Linked DNA regions of Homo sapiens: region 1 is linked to region 2. The links come from fine-mapping of genetic effects on gene expression. A gene starts in region 2. The other region holds a variant in brackets. All regions are shown on one strand. Distances are from middle to middle. Region 1 holds the start of WSPAR (Wnt signaling pathway activating non-coding RNA). Region 2 holds the start of C5orf15 (chromosome 5 open reading frame 15).

What was found. PIP is the estimated chance that this variant, and not a neighbour inherited with it, causes the effect.
Region 1: its variant is the best candidate, but not a certain one, in a credible set for the expression of C5orf15 in ileum (CEDAR, PIP 0.82).

The regions. Positions count from the first base shown.
Region 1 is chr5:133,910,906-133,919,342 of GRCh38, forward strand. It overlaps WSPAR (Wnt signaling pathway activating non-coding RNA), which reads left to right and starts at 2,772. Exons shown (of 3, transcript NR_131252.1): 1 at 2,772-3,091; 2 at 3,870-4,017; 3 at 6,150-6,364. The variant TTA/T (reference allele first, on the strand shown) is at 3,139.
Region 2 is chr5:133,964,872-133,973,308 of GRCh38, forward strand. It overlaps C5orf15 (chromosome 5 open reading frame 15), which reads right to left and starts at 3,754. Exons shown (of 3, transcript NM_020199.3): 1 at 3,575-3,754. The coding sequence starts at 3,713. It overlaps VDAC1 (voltage dependent anion channel 1), which reads right to left. Exons shown (of 9, transcript NM_003374.3): 9 at 7,000-7,991. The coding sequence ends at 7,900. It overlaps LOC105379183 (a long non-coding RNA gene), which reads left to right and starts at 3,818. Exons shown (of 2, transcript NR_134247.1): 1 at 3,818-3,921; 2 at 4,880-5,352. RefSeq lists enhancers at 2,948-3,047, 3,678-3,897.

The sequences.
Region 1 (8,437 bases), 54 kb before region 2:
CTCGGCAGGCAATTGAGACGGCTTCAGGCGGGGCTGCTGGGAGAAGTTCTGCAGCATGTCAGGAAATGGTCCCTCCAAGACCCCCCTTCCCCAGCAAAAGTGACCTGCGGTGGCAGTTAGACAGGGCTCAATGGCTAAACAAGACACACAGGACCAAAATGACAGTGCTTACAAGTCTACGGTTTATTGCAAGAAGAGGATATAAGACAGCAATAGCATTACAGTCAGGAATTTTATCACTGCCAGAGTGCCTCACCACAGTCTGAAGGGGCCAGGCATGAACTCCAATTGTCCTCCCTGTGAAAGGGCACCCTGGGTGCAATTTCTTGAATCAAGAACCACCAACATGTGCACTCAATGCCTCGGAACTGGGAAACCCGAGATGCATAGATTTTCAACCTCTTATGAAGCTCAAGAATATCTGCTCACATACCTGCGCAGGGGGGAGCAAGGACTCTGCTACCCATGTCCTAGGTTGGTCCACGTTCATTACAGAAATGGCCGAGGCCCATGGACTACAGGGGCATACAACACTGGGGAACTAGAACTCACTGAGCAGCCAGACAGAAGAGTGGACCAGGCATAGTCGTCCCAGTGGTTTTAACCAGAAAAGGCTTCCAGGGGAGGTAGGGGTCAAGGAGGGCCGGTTAGAGCCCAAGCCAGCTAAGCTTCTTGGAGGGACACTTCTAGGGGATGAAGGAGTGAGAGTGGAAGGTTTCATAGAGAGGGTCAAGCATCGCCCTGCCCACACTGCTTGTTTCAAAGTGCAAAGATCCCATGGCTGGAGTTAAATGCTCCCCATGGTTGGGATGCTGCCTGTCCCTGTTCTTCACAGTTCCAGGCTGGGGATCCACCTCTGCCATGTAAGATGGAATGTGGATCCGCATGGCCAGGTCTGTACACCATCAATCAGATATGAAGCAACTCTGGGGGCTACCCCATCTTACTTCCTTCCACTCTGGAATTATTTGTGCTAGAGGGTACCTTGGAGCAGTAATTTCATATACCAACAATGTCCAATCAAGCACTGTAGAACTGCTGTTCCACAATTAAACTCTGTAGCCATAATTTGTTTATCAATAAAATGTAGGCCAGGTGCGGTGGCTCATGTCTGTAACCCCAGCACTTTGGGAGGCCAAGGCAGACAGGTCACCTGAGGTCAGGAGTTCGAGACCAGCCTGGCTAACATGGTAAAATGCTGTTCCTACTAAAAATACAAAAAATTAGCCAGGCATGGTGGTGCACGCCTGTAATCCCAGCTACTCAGGAGGCTGAGGCAGGAGAATCGCTTGAACCCGGGAGGCGGAGGTTGCAGTGAGCTGAGATTGCGCCACTGCACTCCAGCTTGGGCAACAAGAGTGAAACTCCGTCTCAAAAAAAATGTAAGGCCAGGCATGGTGGCTCATGTCTGTAACCCTAGAACTTTGGGAGGTCCAGGTGGGAGAATCTCTTGAGCCGAGGAGTTCGAAACCAGCCTGGGCAACATAGTGAAACCTTGTCTCCACAAAAAGTTTTTAAAAATTAAGCGAGTATGGTGGCATGTGCCTGTCATCCCAGCTACTCAGGTGGCTGACGTGGGAGGGTCGCTTAAGCCCAGGAGGTCGAGGGTGCAGTAAGCCATGGTGGTGCCACTGTACTCCAGCCTGGGCAACATAGAAAAACCTTGTCTCAAAAAATGAAAAATGAAAAATTTTTTTTTGAGAAGGAGTCCTGCTCTGTTGCCCAGGCTGGAATGCAGTGGCGCAAACTTGGCTCACTGTAAGCTCTGCCTCCCAGGTTCACACCATTCTCCTGCCTCAGCCTCCCGAGTAGCTGGGACTACAGGTGCCCACCACCATGCCCGGCTAATTTTTTGTATTTTTAGTAGAGACGGGGTTTCACCATGTTAGCCAGGATGGTCTCGATCTCCTGACCTTGTGATCTGCCTGCCTCGGCCTCCCAAAGTGCTGGGATTACAGGCGTGAGCCACCAGGCCCAGCCAAAACGTAATTGTAATTAAGTTTACTTTCCAAAGAAGAAAAAACACTCAGAATCCAAACAGGACAGGTGGAATCAAAGGCTTCTTCACAAAGATGCGTGGGGTAATGCGGAACCCCTTTTCTTAAGAAAAGTTTCTGCTCAGAGGGGATCCTGGCCTTGCTGTTGCAGCTGTTATAAATCGTCCATGGGCATGAAAATGGAGATGGTCTTTGGAGGCCCGGGGAGAGATAAGGAGAGTAACAGACGCCACAGAGGCCATGCTTGGCTGTGGGTTGCAGAGATCTCCATCCCGATTGGAATAGTAATTGCTTCATTGGATCATTGCTTCGAAAAATAATGCGGTGGGGGAGCAGAGGCAGCCCGCTGTGAATTCCAAGCAGGAACATACTGAACTGCTCCAGAGAGAGGGAACTCTGCAGCAGGGAGCGCCTGGAGCCAGGAGTCCACTCACCCCAGCAGGAGGACTCTCCAACAAGAATTCGCCACTCCTGACCTGGAATGTGGAGATGGGAATGGCCAGACGGGCCCTGGACCTGGTGAAGGATGTCAGGACACTACAGCGTCACTGCTCCTGGTGGCAGCCACCATCTCTTAACCCCTCAGGGAGAGTTAAGATTCAGGTCAGCACCTAGAGCAGCTACCTCAGAGTACTTAATGCCAATCCCTGGGCAAAGAACTTCTACACTAAATTCCATTCTGTCGTCACCACGCTGGGAGGTGGACATTACTATCCTCATCTGACAGACAAGGAAACTAACACTACAAGGAGATTAAATAGCATGACAAAGTCTCCATCCTGGCTGAACTTTGGATAAGATCTACGTTTGGGATTCTTCTTGGTGATGGATGATGCCTAGACCAGCCCCAGACACCCTCCCAAGCCTAAGCTCCCCTCTCCTGTTCTGACATCCCCATCCCACCAGGAACCCAAGCTTGTGGCCATCGTGCCAGGAGGACTTCTTCCAGGTTTTAGTATAGCCTGAGTGACCTCTAGGAGTCCTTGGACCTGAGCTAACTCCTGTACAATTTTGGCCGGTTGTCTGGTTAATAAATTAACAATTGGTAATGATAACAGCTAGCCAACATTGTTGGTTATATGCCAGCCACTAAGGTAAGCATTATCTTATATGGCCCTCATAATCTCTCTATAAGGTAGAG[TTA/T]TATAATCCCCATTTTATAGAGGGGGAAACTGAGGATTAAGCACGTGAGTCACCTGTGGGAAGGCAGAGTCTGGAATCCAGGGGGTTCGATTCCAAGGTCCATGCTTTTAACTCCTGTGTTTTTTTGCTCAGTTTCAGAAAACCCAGTTCACAGAAATCTGATACTTTAGAGATAAATTATTCACATAACAAAAGGATCTTTTACCTTGGGGAAGGATTCAGCTGGACTTTGAGCATAACTTCCTTCGTGCATTTAAAATGTGACCTGACTTAGGATTTTTGGTGTCCTGCCCATGACCTGATGAGAAACTATATTTGTCCCCAGGCTTCTTCAGCTGATATCCTTCTTCCCCTACAGGGAAGGAGGTCAAATCTAATCCTAGGCCTGGAAATGCTTGGCCAGGGCCTGGTGGTGCCCAAGCCCCTCTCAGGCTGGGCTTTGGCTTCTTGGGGCCAGGCCTTGGGTATAGAGGCCACTGCCCACACTCAGGCCCAGACAAGCTTGGTGACCTTGCATGGGCCACTCCGTGTCTCTTGCTCTGCCGCATGTAACCCTGGTCATGCTGACTTGCTCTTGCTGGGGCTCCCGGGTGTATCTAATAAATGATGTAAAGCACTTAGAGACATAAGTGCTCAACTACTGGGGCCATAAATTACCAGGGATGGATTCCTGAATGTTATGATTATGTGCTTGTGCTTGTTCTCAGTAATGAATAATTATCCTTTTAGTCCTGCAGCCACATCCAAACATCTTCACCCCACAGGACTAGAGGAGTCACTGACCCTGACTGCTGGGCTCCTCCGATGGTCATGGGCAACAACCAAATGCAAAGCTTGGTCCCTGATGGACACCAGTCTGAAGAACCTTTTCTATAAGGCACGTTTGGGTAAATTTGAACACAGGCAAGGTATTAGATGGTGTCAGGAAACTGTTAACTTTGTTAGGTATAATCATGGCATTATGATTATACAGGAGTTTGGTTTTTTTTTGTTTTTTTTTTTGAGATGGAATCTCACTTTGTTGCCCAGGCCGGAGTGCAGTGGTGCAATCTCAGCTCACTGCAGCCTCCACCTCCTGGGATCAAGCAATTCTCATGCCTCATCCTCCCAAGTAGCTGACATTACAGGCATGCACCACCACACCCAACTAATTTTTGTATATTTAGTAAAGCTGGGGTTTCACCATGTTGGCCAGGCTGGTCTTGAACTCCTGACCTCAAGTAATCCACTCGCCTCGACCTTCCAAAATGCTGGGATTACAGGATACGCCTGGCCAGGAGTATCTTATTTTTTTAGAAGTGCATGTTGAAATAGGGGTAAAATACCTGTCATTTATTTTTAGATACTTTAGGAAAAAAAAGATGAAGCAAATACTGCAAGATATATACATTAGCTTAATCTAGGGATAGGCATATGAGTGCTCACTACATCATTTGCTCTGCTTTTCTATATATGTTTATATGTAATTAAGTTTAAAAACAAAACCAGCAAAGCATGATGATTTCAGAGACGTGCTCTGGCTAAGTTACAATTCCCTCACAAGTAACAGGCAGAGGGAGATGAGCCATTTTCAGAGAAAGTGTATCCCGGCAGGGGCCAGAAGCATGGGGCTCACCCTGGTGCCCAGATCCAGGAGAACAAGCTCCTGGGATCTGTTTCTAGAACTATCCTCCCTTGTCGCACCCCAGCCACCACAAAATTTAAAATCTAATCCAAGACTAGTCACGCTACTTCTGCTCACTTTTCTACTCTTGATATCATAGGACTGTAGTCCCTCCTTCTGGAGGCTATTAATGTAAGCCAGGAAGTAGCTACTAACCATGCATTCATTTATTCATTTGTCATGGTTTTGTTTAGTGTTCCCTATATTCCAGGCCAGGTGAGGAATGAGAAATGGCATTTTAGTTAAGGTCTATTTGTACTACTATAACAAAAACACCTCAATATGTATAAAGACTCAAACACTAATAAATGGTGGTTTATTTCTTGCTTATAAACGAGTTTAAAGCCAAGGTCCCAGGTGGGTGGACAGCTGTTCTCCACTCAGTGATTCCGGGACCCAGGATCTTTCCATCCTGTGACTCTGCCATCTCCTAGGACCTTGTGGTCATCAGCCAGCTGATAAAAGGGAAAGAACTTGGCCTGGAAGCAGCATGTATATCACCTTTGTTCATATTCTATTGTTAAAATCTGGTCTCACACCCATGCTGAGATGCATAGGGATGAGGGTGCAAGAATAGAGGCTGGCTGGAAAATGCAGTTCCTGGATAGACTTTCCATCTACAACTCTTTGCCATGGCCAGAGGAGAATGGATTTTGGTAGGGAGTCAGCCATCTCTGCCACACATGACTTAAGCCCTCTAGAAGTTTACAGACTAGTGACAGAGTCACTGCAGTTTAGAGCAAGGTAATTTGTCCACTAGGGCAGGTAGAAGCAAGTCTAGTAGGACCCCCAACTCTGTGTCTGGCCCTATGCTCAGATGTGCTGCAGGGGAGACCAAGGAACTTCTGGGAACCTGCAGACTTGCTGGGACTCTAATGCATAAAATCAACAGAGACAGCCCAAAGCAGGGGGGTAAACACTGAACAGTGCCTAGAGCAAAGATGAGAGTGTATATTTTTTTGAATAGAGGAACTGTATCTCTGTGTTAACCACTAAGTCCTTAGTGCTCAGCATGGGAACTAACATAGAGCCAAACCTTAAAAGTTCCCTGCCCACTCGAGCTGTCTGGGAAGATGGGACACAGAAGGGGAAAGTGGCAGCCCTGAGTGTTCTGTGGCCTTCCTTAGAAAGAGTATTAGGGGGTGGAGGGTTACTAGATTATAAGGGAACTAGCTTAAATAAAGGCCTGGGGATGGGGGTGAATACATCAAGCACTAGGAACAACAGTGATCTCCCTGGTCAGAAGGTAGCAGGGGTGTTTTGAGGACCAGGGAAGGGACCTGGTCCTTTTCCTTCATGACATATCACCGGTAATTTTATATTTATTTCCATGCCTACTTCTTTAGAATCTCCTCCTGCTCTAGACTGTGCGCATCCTAACGGCAGCAGCCTGCCTGTCCTGTGCGCCACTGTGTTCCCAGAGTCCTCAGCAGGCCCTGGCCCACCTAGGTGCTCACTGAATGAACACACAAGAGAATGAATGTAAGGCCAGCTGGTGGGACAGTGAGCGTCTGCCTGCACAATGAGGCTGCCCAGGGGAGGAAGGTACCCCCTACATGTGTATCTACTCTGCTTGGAGCTTGATTTCGTTTCCAGCCTGACCTTCTTTTGTTTGCTCATTAATTCAATATTTGCTATGTTCCACCAAGGGACCTCAAGAGGCATAAAGGTTTTCCTTCTCCAGTAAAAGCAGCTTGCATTTGTCTTAAATTACCTCAATTACCTCATGGTGAACCCCATCTTTCTGTCCCACACTCTCCCCCACCTCCAAGACCCTCTGAAAGCAGCAACACGCTATGGTTCCCCTCCATGTCTCCAGAGAAAATACGAGGACTTCCCTGACATTGACTGGGGGAAAAGGGTGAGCAAGAAAACCTGGGGTTCCTCCAGGGACTCTGCTGCTGCCAGGTCTCCTTTAGGAGACATTTAGGCCCAGCTGTGAGCTACTCATCTGCTTTCTCATCCCCCAGAAAGCAAATGTTGGAACTTTGATGTATTTGAGAATCATTTTTTTACCTTAATTAGAAAATACACATTTGAACGGCATCAAACATTAATGAGACTTGCAGGGGGGTCGCTTATAAACAAACTTATTACTATGTTTAAGAAAAGCATGACTGAGCCCTCTCCTCAACTGTCTGACTTTGTTGCTCCCAGTCCTTCTGGGCTGGTCAATGAGGAGCGCGCCTGGCAGCCACATTCTGTAAAGCCAGGCTCTGGACAAGCCCCTGCTGATGGCTTTGCTGCTGGGCCAGGGACTTACACGCCTCTTTCCACTCTGACAGTGGACCTTCTTTGTTGTCCATTTATCCTCATATTGATTTTGCTATAAAGCCACACGGCACTCCCTCCCCGGCCAGAAGGAGAAACCTCCATTGATTGTATTGGAATAAGGTTTGTTGTAAAGAAGCGAAACGCCTAAAACATTGAAATGAAGTAAGCTCTTTGAAGGTCCATAAATCACCCAGGATAATGCCGCAAATGAACAGGGTTCCTTAAACACCTGGAAAATACAACCCCATAAAGCAGTTCTGACAAGAAATCACAGCCCCTCTCTCTCTGTAGCTGCCATTTGAAAAACACCATCAATAATGGTTATTGCTGTTTGGTAAGCAAAAGAGGGAAGTTGTGTCAGTCTCCTTGAGAAAGTTCCCTCAAAGTCACTTTGCCCAAATGGCAGCGTGGCGTTTTTCGCGCAGTAAATACATCCCAATTATGAGCATGTCATGTTAGCTTTTACAGTTCACTAATCACGAATTTTTTGTATGTCATTGCCAACCAGCATCTTTCCCTAATCGGAATTTATGGCTCTGTTTGGCAGTGAGTGGAGATAAGGAGGGTCATAGCAGTTTCATTTTTCCAGAGCTGGAGGCCTCAGCCAGGTTTGGGGCCCAAGGTCATGCCCCCTGCCCTCCTCCGGTCTGAAGGTCAGGGTCCTGCGCGCCTCAGGGATGGAGGTTGGGGGCTTCTGTGGAAAGCTCTCCTCTAGATTCCCGGCATCCCTGTGGCCCAGGCCGCAAGGCCGGACTTAGGTCCCCTGTCCTGGCTCATCTCTGTGGACTCACCTTCCCAAAAGTGCTAAATCACTAAGCGAGCAAAAATACTCAGCCAAGCCTGGAGCCAGACCCATCTCCACAGGGGATTCCCCCTGGCTCCTCTGAGCATCTCTCCCCTCGGTCAGACCCGGGCAGCCACCAGGGTGGGTTTGCCTCAAGGCCGCATTCTCATCCCCTCAGGGCTCACCAATCACGCCCTCCAGCAGACGCCCTCACCAAATCAGGTGGTACTCTCTGGGCCGCTCAGCGTCATACTCAGCATTCAGACTCTCCTGGCCTTTCCAGCCACCACAGGCATCTCCCTGGCCTTGCAGTTCGGCCTACAGCCCTGCCCTATGGGGGGCTGCCCACAGCCAGGCAGTTTCAGAACTGGCAGGGGCGTGTGTAGCTGTGATGGCCCCCGCTCCACACCAGCTCCTCGGCATTGCCTTAGAGTTGTCCCCAGGCCCCTCCAGTTATGTGGCCCAGGGTGTGCAGACCAGGGAATAGCGGACACAGTCAAGCACAGGGTGCCCTTCCACCTGGGGCAGGGGGGCTGTCAGGCTGGAGCAGCAACCTCTTGTGGAAAGCAGTCTCAC
Region 2 (8,437 bases):
ACAATAGCCTCCTAATTAATCTGCCTGCTTCCACCCTAACTTCTACTGTCTATACTCAACACAGCAGCCAGAGTCATTCTGTCAAAACTTAAATCAAATGTTACTCCTCTACTTAAGACCCTCTAGGGCCATCCATTTCTCACAAAAGTGAAAATTTTTATAATAGCCTTCAAGATCCTACATGATCTGGCCCCCATTACCTCACTCTCATTATCTTACTAATCTCCCTAACAGCTCTATCCCCATTACCTACTTAATAGATAGCAGGCACTCAATAAATATTTATTGAATATGCTCTCGATTCAACTCTCACCACAAATCCCACACCACATCCCACATAGCATCTATGCACCTACTGCACTCCCTCAAGAGCCCATGCCATGGTTCTCAGCAAAACGCCACTCATTCTTCTAAGGATACCCCCAGTATCACCCTATTCATTGTTTAACTCCAATACCTAGCACCAAGTAGGAGCAGAATGTCTTAGTCAAGCAGTAAAATCTTGGAAGTAATACACAAATACAGCACAAGAAAAAACAAATAATTGACCTGAAACATGTAATACAAAGGCTATCAACTTACTCAAACTCCTTCAAATCAGAGAAGTTGATTAAGTCAGATATGAAGAGTATTCAGAACAAAGGTACAACTCTGACTTTACGGATTTAACTGTTGACCTTCTATGAGCATATAAATAAGACTTCTAAATCTTCCCTTTCCTAATTGATATTACCTCTCTACTTGAAGCTTAACATTTTAAAAATAAAGCTTAGGCCGGACACGGTGGCTCACGCCTGTAACCCTAGCACTTTGGGAGGCCAGGGCAAGTGGATCGCTTAAGCACAGGAATTCAAGACCAGCCTGGCCAACATGGCAAAACCCCATCTCTACAAAAATACAAAAATCAGCTGAGCACGGTGGCAGGCACCTGTGGTCCCAGCTATTCAGGGGGCTGAAGTGGGAGGACTGCTTGAGCCCAGGAGGCGGAAGTTGCAATGGGCCAAGTTTGTGCTACTGCACTCCAGCCTGGGCGACAGAGCAAAACCCTGTCTCAAACAAACAAACAAAAAAGGCTGGGCACAGTGGCTCAGGCCTGTAATCCCAGCACTTTGGGAGGCCAAGGCGGGCGGATCACGAGGTCAGGAGATTGAGACCATCCTGGATAACACGGTGAAACCCCGTCTCTACTAAAAATACAAAAACTAGCCAGGTGTGGTGCGCGCCTGTAGTCCCAGCATACTCGGGAGGCTGAGGCAGAAGAATCACTTGAAACCGGGAGGCGGAGGTTGCAATGAGCCGAGATCACGCCACTGCACTCCAGCCTCGCGACAGACTCAAAAAAAAAACAAAAAACAAAACTTTATAAATTTAATTCTCCCCTTCTACTGGTCCCTTTTTAAAAACTGCCCTAAAATAAAACTATATCAGCATTTCTTAAACTTAAGAATGCAGAGGACCCCGAGAACTCATTCACACACTGGTTTGAGAAACAATGCCTTAAAAATGAAATGCATTATACATTAAGTTTAGGTGATCATTTGGGGACAATATAATGGCAAATGTAGAGAACCAGGCATTTTTGAAATGGCATGACCAAGAATTAGTCACCCAGTGATCCAAACTGCTTATGTTAATTTTTTAGACTTGATCAAAACAAAAACATAAAACAAAAATTCTTACAGACTGACGAGCATATAACCAAGCATTGACAGTTTTTAAAACCTAATATGGAACAAATTTAAATAAATCTAATGTGGTAACCTTCTACCTTTGTAAACTCACTTGAAATTTGGAACTCAACACATTCTAGACTAATTTTCTTATTACAGGAGTGACTACTTTGAAATTATAAGGTATGCTTACAAAAAATACTTATATCCCAAGCTACACTGTAGTGCAGTGGAGCTGCTCGCCTATTAAAGACATGTATGTTCGTTTTCATTTAGCTTCTTTTCAGGACAGAATAATCTGAATTTATGACATTTTAAACTGGTGTATGTAAAGACTTAATTTAAAAGATAAAGATTCTCTAAAATGTCTCAGTATAGTTAGAAAAATATTTATAGGGCTCTAACAAATAAAAGCAGAGACTAAAGGACACTTAACAGTCCACATTCTGCCTCACTTCTTGCCCAATTTTCAACCATCTCTTAGGGGAAAAAAGCTGTTTCTGAAACTACAGTTGCCAGATATATATCCCTTAAGCATTCCAGCAGGAAATATAAATGTTTGTGTTTTATTTTTCTTAGATGATTAAATGGCCAAAACAATTAAGCTACTTAAGTACTTTAGGAACGGGAATATCTGCATCAACCAGGGAAATCCTCATTACATTTCACTAATGATAAAAGGGCCTTAGGAAATGGACAGCAGTCCTTCCTCAGGGACTGCAAAGACTTCTGGGAGGGCGTCCAGTTAGCAACACTGAAATGTTGCTGAGGAAACATAAGTATGTACCCACAGTACTGTCGCAGAGGAATGTAGGGCTGGACAGGCCCTGCTGGCAAGAAAGAAAACACTATACCAGGTCACACTGTTTTGCAGCTGAAAATTCAAATTTAGGGAGAAACGCAGGACTGTGTCTTGGCCTGAAAGAAAAATGGGACTACTAAACAAAATACCGTTTAATCCTTACAAGTTCTTAATAGTGGATTTTTCCCACCAAGTATCAGGCACTGGTTTACAGATTTCCTAATTTCTCAATAAAAGCCTTCAATCTCTTGATTTCACCATGCAACATTTGCAAGAAATGAAATATTTTATCAATCAAATCCTACAGATGCATTAAAACGAGGCAGGGTTATCCTGGTTAACTCGGAACACAGGGAAGAGGAATCATGATCTCCCTTGTCTCCAAACTCCTCTCTGCCTCCCAAGCCTTCAGGGGCCCAACGCCCCAGTACTCTGAATCTTTATCAAACACCAGAACCTCCCAGTCTTCAAATATGCACCAGTACCCTAAGACAGCTCTTTCCCTTTCACTTTCCCTCTCGGAAATATTCCATTGGTTCAGTCCAGTCACTGGATTACTGCCCCTGCCCGCCTCGGTCTTTACCACTGACCTCTCCCATTCTGGAAAACCCCCACCTTTCCTTGGTCCTGCAAGATTCCTGAGTCCCCCAAACTCAGGACCCTTTCCAGACACCACACCCCCAGCCCCGGCCACCTCCTCAGCCCCTGTCGCCACCCTCTCTTCCAGAGTCTCCTAACTTTCCGATCCAAGAAATTTTGGAGACCCCACCACCGCCATTCCTTGCGGCAGCCCATTCTTCAACGATCTCTAGGCGCTAACACCACTCCTCCCTCCCCGCCCATCTACACACCCTGCTGCCTGCTCCCTGGGTTCCTGCATCTCTCAGGGACCCCGCTTCTCAGGCCCCTTGGAGACCCTACCACCTTGGACCCCTTCAGACACCATACCCTCCGTCCTCAGGCCCGCGGAGACCCTGACCCAACCAGACACCGCCGTCTGCTCCTGACACTTGGAAGCGCCCTTTCCCTGGCCCGGCCTGTCTCCTGCCCTGCGCCCGAGCCCTCCTAGCCTTCCTAAGCCCACACTGCCGCCCCCCTTTACCACTGGATAGAGCGGCGGACACAAGCAGGAGCGCCAAGACCAGCGGCCGCGCCAACCCCACAAGGGCTTGGATGGCCGACCCGGGCAGCAGTTTCGCTTGTGCTGGCCCCCTCATCCTCTTCGGGACGGCAGCGGCCATAACGGACTCGGCTGGGAGCCTGCGCTGTTGCTAGGCTCTACGCCATGAGGTCAGACGCCGCGGCCCTCGGCACATACGTCCCAGCGTGGTGACGTCGAAGCCTGGAGACGTGCTCTGGAAACCGGAATAAGAAGGAAGGATTGCAGGGAGGAGGGAGTTGCCGCTAGGCGAAAGTGGGGACCGCCACACAGTTGGCTGCGGATTAAAGGTAGGGTGTGACGTGCTGAAGAGGGCCAAAGCGAGCCCCTCCCTGCCGCCTGCATGATTGGGTACTATACAGCCAAAAATAGCGTTTTTAGCCATTTTAAAAAGGAAGATCCAGCTGTAGAACAGACTGATCACGAAAGCGAAGTAACTGCTCTTCCTCTCTCAAAGGCGAAAGAAACACAAATGTTAAGTAGTCCTATTTCGGTGATGGGATTATAAGTAATTTTTAAAAATCTTTCCCGACAGTCATTTATTTTTTTTCAACAAAGATTTAGCACCTCTCCCTATTTAAGATACAGCAGTGAACAAAAAGAACCCCCCACCCCCCCGCCCGCCTTGGCAGTTTATTTTCTTGTGAGGGCGAATATGGTGTAAAATACACACTATACAAGATGATAAAGATATTATGGACCGGCCCTAGTGCAGTGGCTCCCAGCACTTTGGGAGGCCGAGGAGGGCAGATCACCTGAGGTCCGGAGTTGGAGACCAGCCTGGCCAACATGGAGAAACCCCGACTCTACTAAAAATACAAAAATTAGCCAGGCGTGGTGGCGCGTGCCTGTAATCGCAGCTACTCGGGAGGCTGAGGTAGGAGAATCGCTGTAACCCGGGAGGTGGAGGCTGCAGGGAGCCGAGATGCCACTGCACTCTAGCCTGGGCCACAGACTCCGTCTCAAAAAAAAAAAAAAAATTATGGAGGAAAAGAAAGGAAGGTAGCTAGGAAGTAGAGGTGAGGGGCTGCCATTGAAAATAACTTTCAGATTTCCTAAAATAAGCTTCTCTTTTTAAATTTTGTTACTTGAAATCCCCAGTGTATAAAAATGCAAACTTACAAACTTCCAAGAAGTTCACCTAGGGCCCTGGCGCCATACTTTGCTCTGTGTGTACGTTCTGTAAATGTCTCCTTAATAAACAGATACAGGCTTCAATTCATAAAAGTTCCATTTGATCAATTTCAGGAAAATCAATGTGACGTTAAGCAAGACATTTATTGTGCCCACAGCTTCACCATTCTGGTCTCTATGATTCCCTGCGAAGATTGCTGTTATCCCCCAGAGACACAGCTGAGCTGTCTCTCTAAAGGGCCTGTGTTCTACTCCTGAATCTGGTTTCCCCTAAGCTTTTATCTCACCCTGGTGACAGCTCAGAAACACACAAACTCTGTGTTAAGAAAACTAAGAAGTCATTCATCTGCACATTTCCCGAAATCCCCCAGAAGCCCGTATTAGACTGAATGGTGTCCTTATTGCAAACTCTCCACTTTAGCCAAGGTGCAAAGTCCTCCCAGTCCCCCAGGAGCTTCCCTTCTCTGAGCGGTACTTAAGTTTTCTGTAAAACCACTCAGTTCAACAAATGAGCTTCTCAATCTTAGTTTCTGCTTGTTGACTTTAAAGTTAATCTATAATAAACACACTGCAGTCCTCTTCCCTGACTCATTGTCCACTTTGTCCATTTGTGTCCTCATACCAGATTGTCTCAATTCTCTTAACTGGTGAGATATTATGAACTCAAAGCATTTTGCACAATGATATTCCAACATGCTGCATGCAACAAGCAGACAATAAGTAACTAGTGAGGGAAATATTCCCTCATACTCAAGAGAACCCTTTATACATTTTTAAATATTTTAGGGCCAGGCTTATGCCTGTAATCCCAAGTACTCGGGAGGCTGAGATGGGAGGATCACAGGAGCCCAGGAGTTCAAGGCTGCAGTGAGCTATGATGATGACAGTGCACTTCAGTCTGGGTGACAGAGTAAGACTGTCTCTAAAAGTAAAATATCTTAATACTGTACCTGACATCTGACTAGATGTACCCAGCAACCACTATGTGCCATAATCTCTGGATAAATTCTATGAACATTCACTTAGAAATAGCTGCAAGTCCCTGAAGACAGTATGACAAATACTGAGGCCCACAGTTTTTGGGTGATCAGTTGCATAAAATGCTAAAATAGATGGTTCCTGTTTTGAATGTCACTTTCAAACATAGAAAAAAAAGGAATTCTGCTGAAAAATCATGAATGGAAAAAAATGTTCATATTTGTTGAAGCTGGATCATGCATAGAGTTTATTACTATTTGTGTTTCCACAATAGGCTGGATGTGGTGGCTCACGCCTGTAATCCCAGCACTTTTGGAGGCCAAGGTGAGCAGATCACCTGAGGTCAGGAGTTTGAGACCAGCCTGACCAACATGGAGAAACCCCATCTCTACTAAAAATACAAAATTAGCCGGGTGTGGTGGCAAATGTTTGTAATCCTAGCTACTCGGGAGGCTGAGGCAGGAGAATTGCTTGAACCCAGGAGGCGGGGAGGCTGAGGCAGGAGAATTGCTTGAACCCAGGAGGCGGAGCTTGCAGTGAGCAGACATTGTGCGCCATTGCATTCCAGCCTGGGCAACAAGAATGAAACTCCGCCTCAAAAAAAAAAAAATCCACCATCAAGTTATTAAAAACATATAAATATATGGGAGAATTCCAAAATCACCCCTTCCCATGACCCATATGGAGGGACCTACAAACATGAAAGGATATTACCAGTGATTAGGTTACTTTACCTGGCAGTTAACTTGAAGGGAGATTACCCTCATTGGGCCTAACCTAATCAGGTGAGTCCTTAAAAGAGTTGGGGCTCTACCTGGAGGAGACTGGAAGTGTGAGAGGGATTTCACATGAGGGAGTTTTTCTGTTTCTGGCTTTGGCGATGGAGGGGACCCCATGGCAAGGAATGCTGGCATCCTCTGAGCACTGAGAGTGGCTCAGCCAACAAAGAAATAGGGACCTCTGTCCTACAACTGAAAATAACTGAATTCCACCACAACCCTGAAAGCCTGGAAGAGGACGCCAAGCCCCCAGATAAAATGAGAAGACAGCCTGGTCGACACCCTAATTCCAGCATTGTGAGAAGCTAAGCACAGTCCAGGTAGGCATGCACACCTGCCTCGCTTTGACCTGCAGAACTGTGAAATAAATGAGTGTTGTTTTAAGCTGCTAAACATATGGTAATCTGTTGTACAGTGAGTGAAAACGAATAATATATAATACACAGAGCATGAAGACAAAATAAATCTAAACAAATGCCCTGTTTATTTATATTTTATTAATAAAGACAACAGAAGAAGGATGAGGTTTCAATATTTTATTCAAGTTTTTTAAGTGTTGTTAATTACAGCATTTGAAGGGGAGGATCTAATTCCAACAAAATGGAAGACTCTAAAATGTACCCATTAAACTGCTAAAAAACAAATTGAGTGGTGAGAATACAACAGAAGTCCAATTTAGATTCTGAGTGTTGTCACCATGTGATTACAATCACACAGACACTTCCAAGCTTATAGCTGGAGCTCCTGGAAGCTATTTCATACTCTGGTGCAAGGGCCAAAAAAAAACACAACACAAGAAGGAATAAGTCCTGAATTATTGGCTTCATCACATCCACCTTCTCCACCCCAAAATGGCACAAAAGAAACAGTTACCACACCCTGCAGACCTTTTGGTGTAAAAGAGATGATGATGAACTGGGGTGGGAACAGGTCATGAAGATCTGTCTAAAAAAGTCCCATTCAGGTGAGTTTGTACACACCATCAAGCAGCGAGCCTCTCATCAATTAGGGTTAGGGAACCAAGGTTCGATTCTCAGGAAATCACAATTTCATTCATTTACTCAATATGAATTTACAAAGTGCCTACATATTATCCGCTTCCACTTGCAGCCATTTCTAGATAAAAAAGAAACCTGGCATCTCAAAGGGGCCACCAAGTTCTCCCCGAGTCTACCACTGAAAGGACCTTTTTTGGAAATAGGTTTCTTCTGTACCTCTGGAAGGGTAACATCTTAAAGCTGAATCAACTTTAACCTGGAGGGCTAACATATTTAGCAATACTTGCATCCCAGACATACAACATTAAAAGATACACTAAATTCTGAAGGTAGCTATGCTGCAAAATAGTTTAAAATTAAACAATTGTACAGTATTCATTTATGCTTGAAATTCCAGTCCTAGACCAAGCTTGTGGCCACCAGCATTGACGTTCTTGCCATCCAGAAGAGCTGACAGTGTCAGTTTAATACCTGCAGGGAGAAAAATGAGGGAGAGGAAAGGAGGAGGAATGGAGGAAAGAAATGACAAGAAAGATTAACACCAAATTCAGAACCTGTTCCAGGTATTATCAGCAGGGTCCAAACTACATGGCCCTTCAATCCTTGTTACTTAGCACTATCTGACCAACAGGCATACTACAGTGGGCTTATAAAACAACTATAATTATCCCACCGCCCAGAGAGCCTACCCAAATCTACTTCTGGAACCCCACTTTCCTTTTTCCTCTCACTGTTCCCCTGGTACAATTAGTCTATAGCACTGGTAGCATGCAGTAAGCTTCTTTGGCAATCATCCCTTTAAATGAAACCTCAATCCTGAATCCAACCTAAGGTCTTACATGTTCATGTTCATAGTGTACACACATGTGTAGTGTGCATGTACATCCACAGATGCACACAACAAACTGACATTCCCT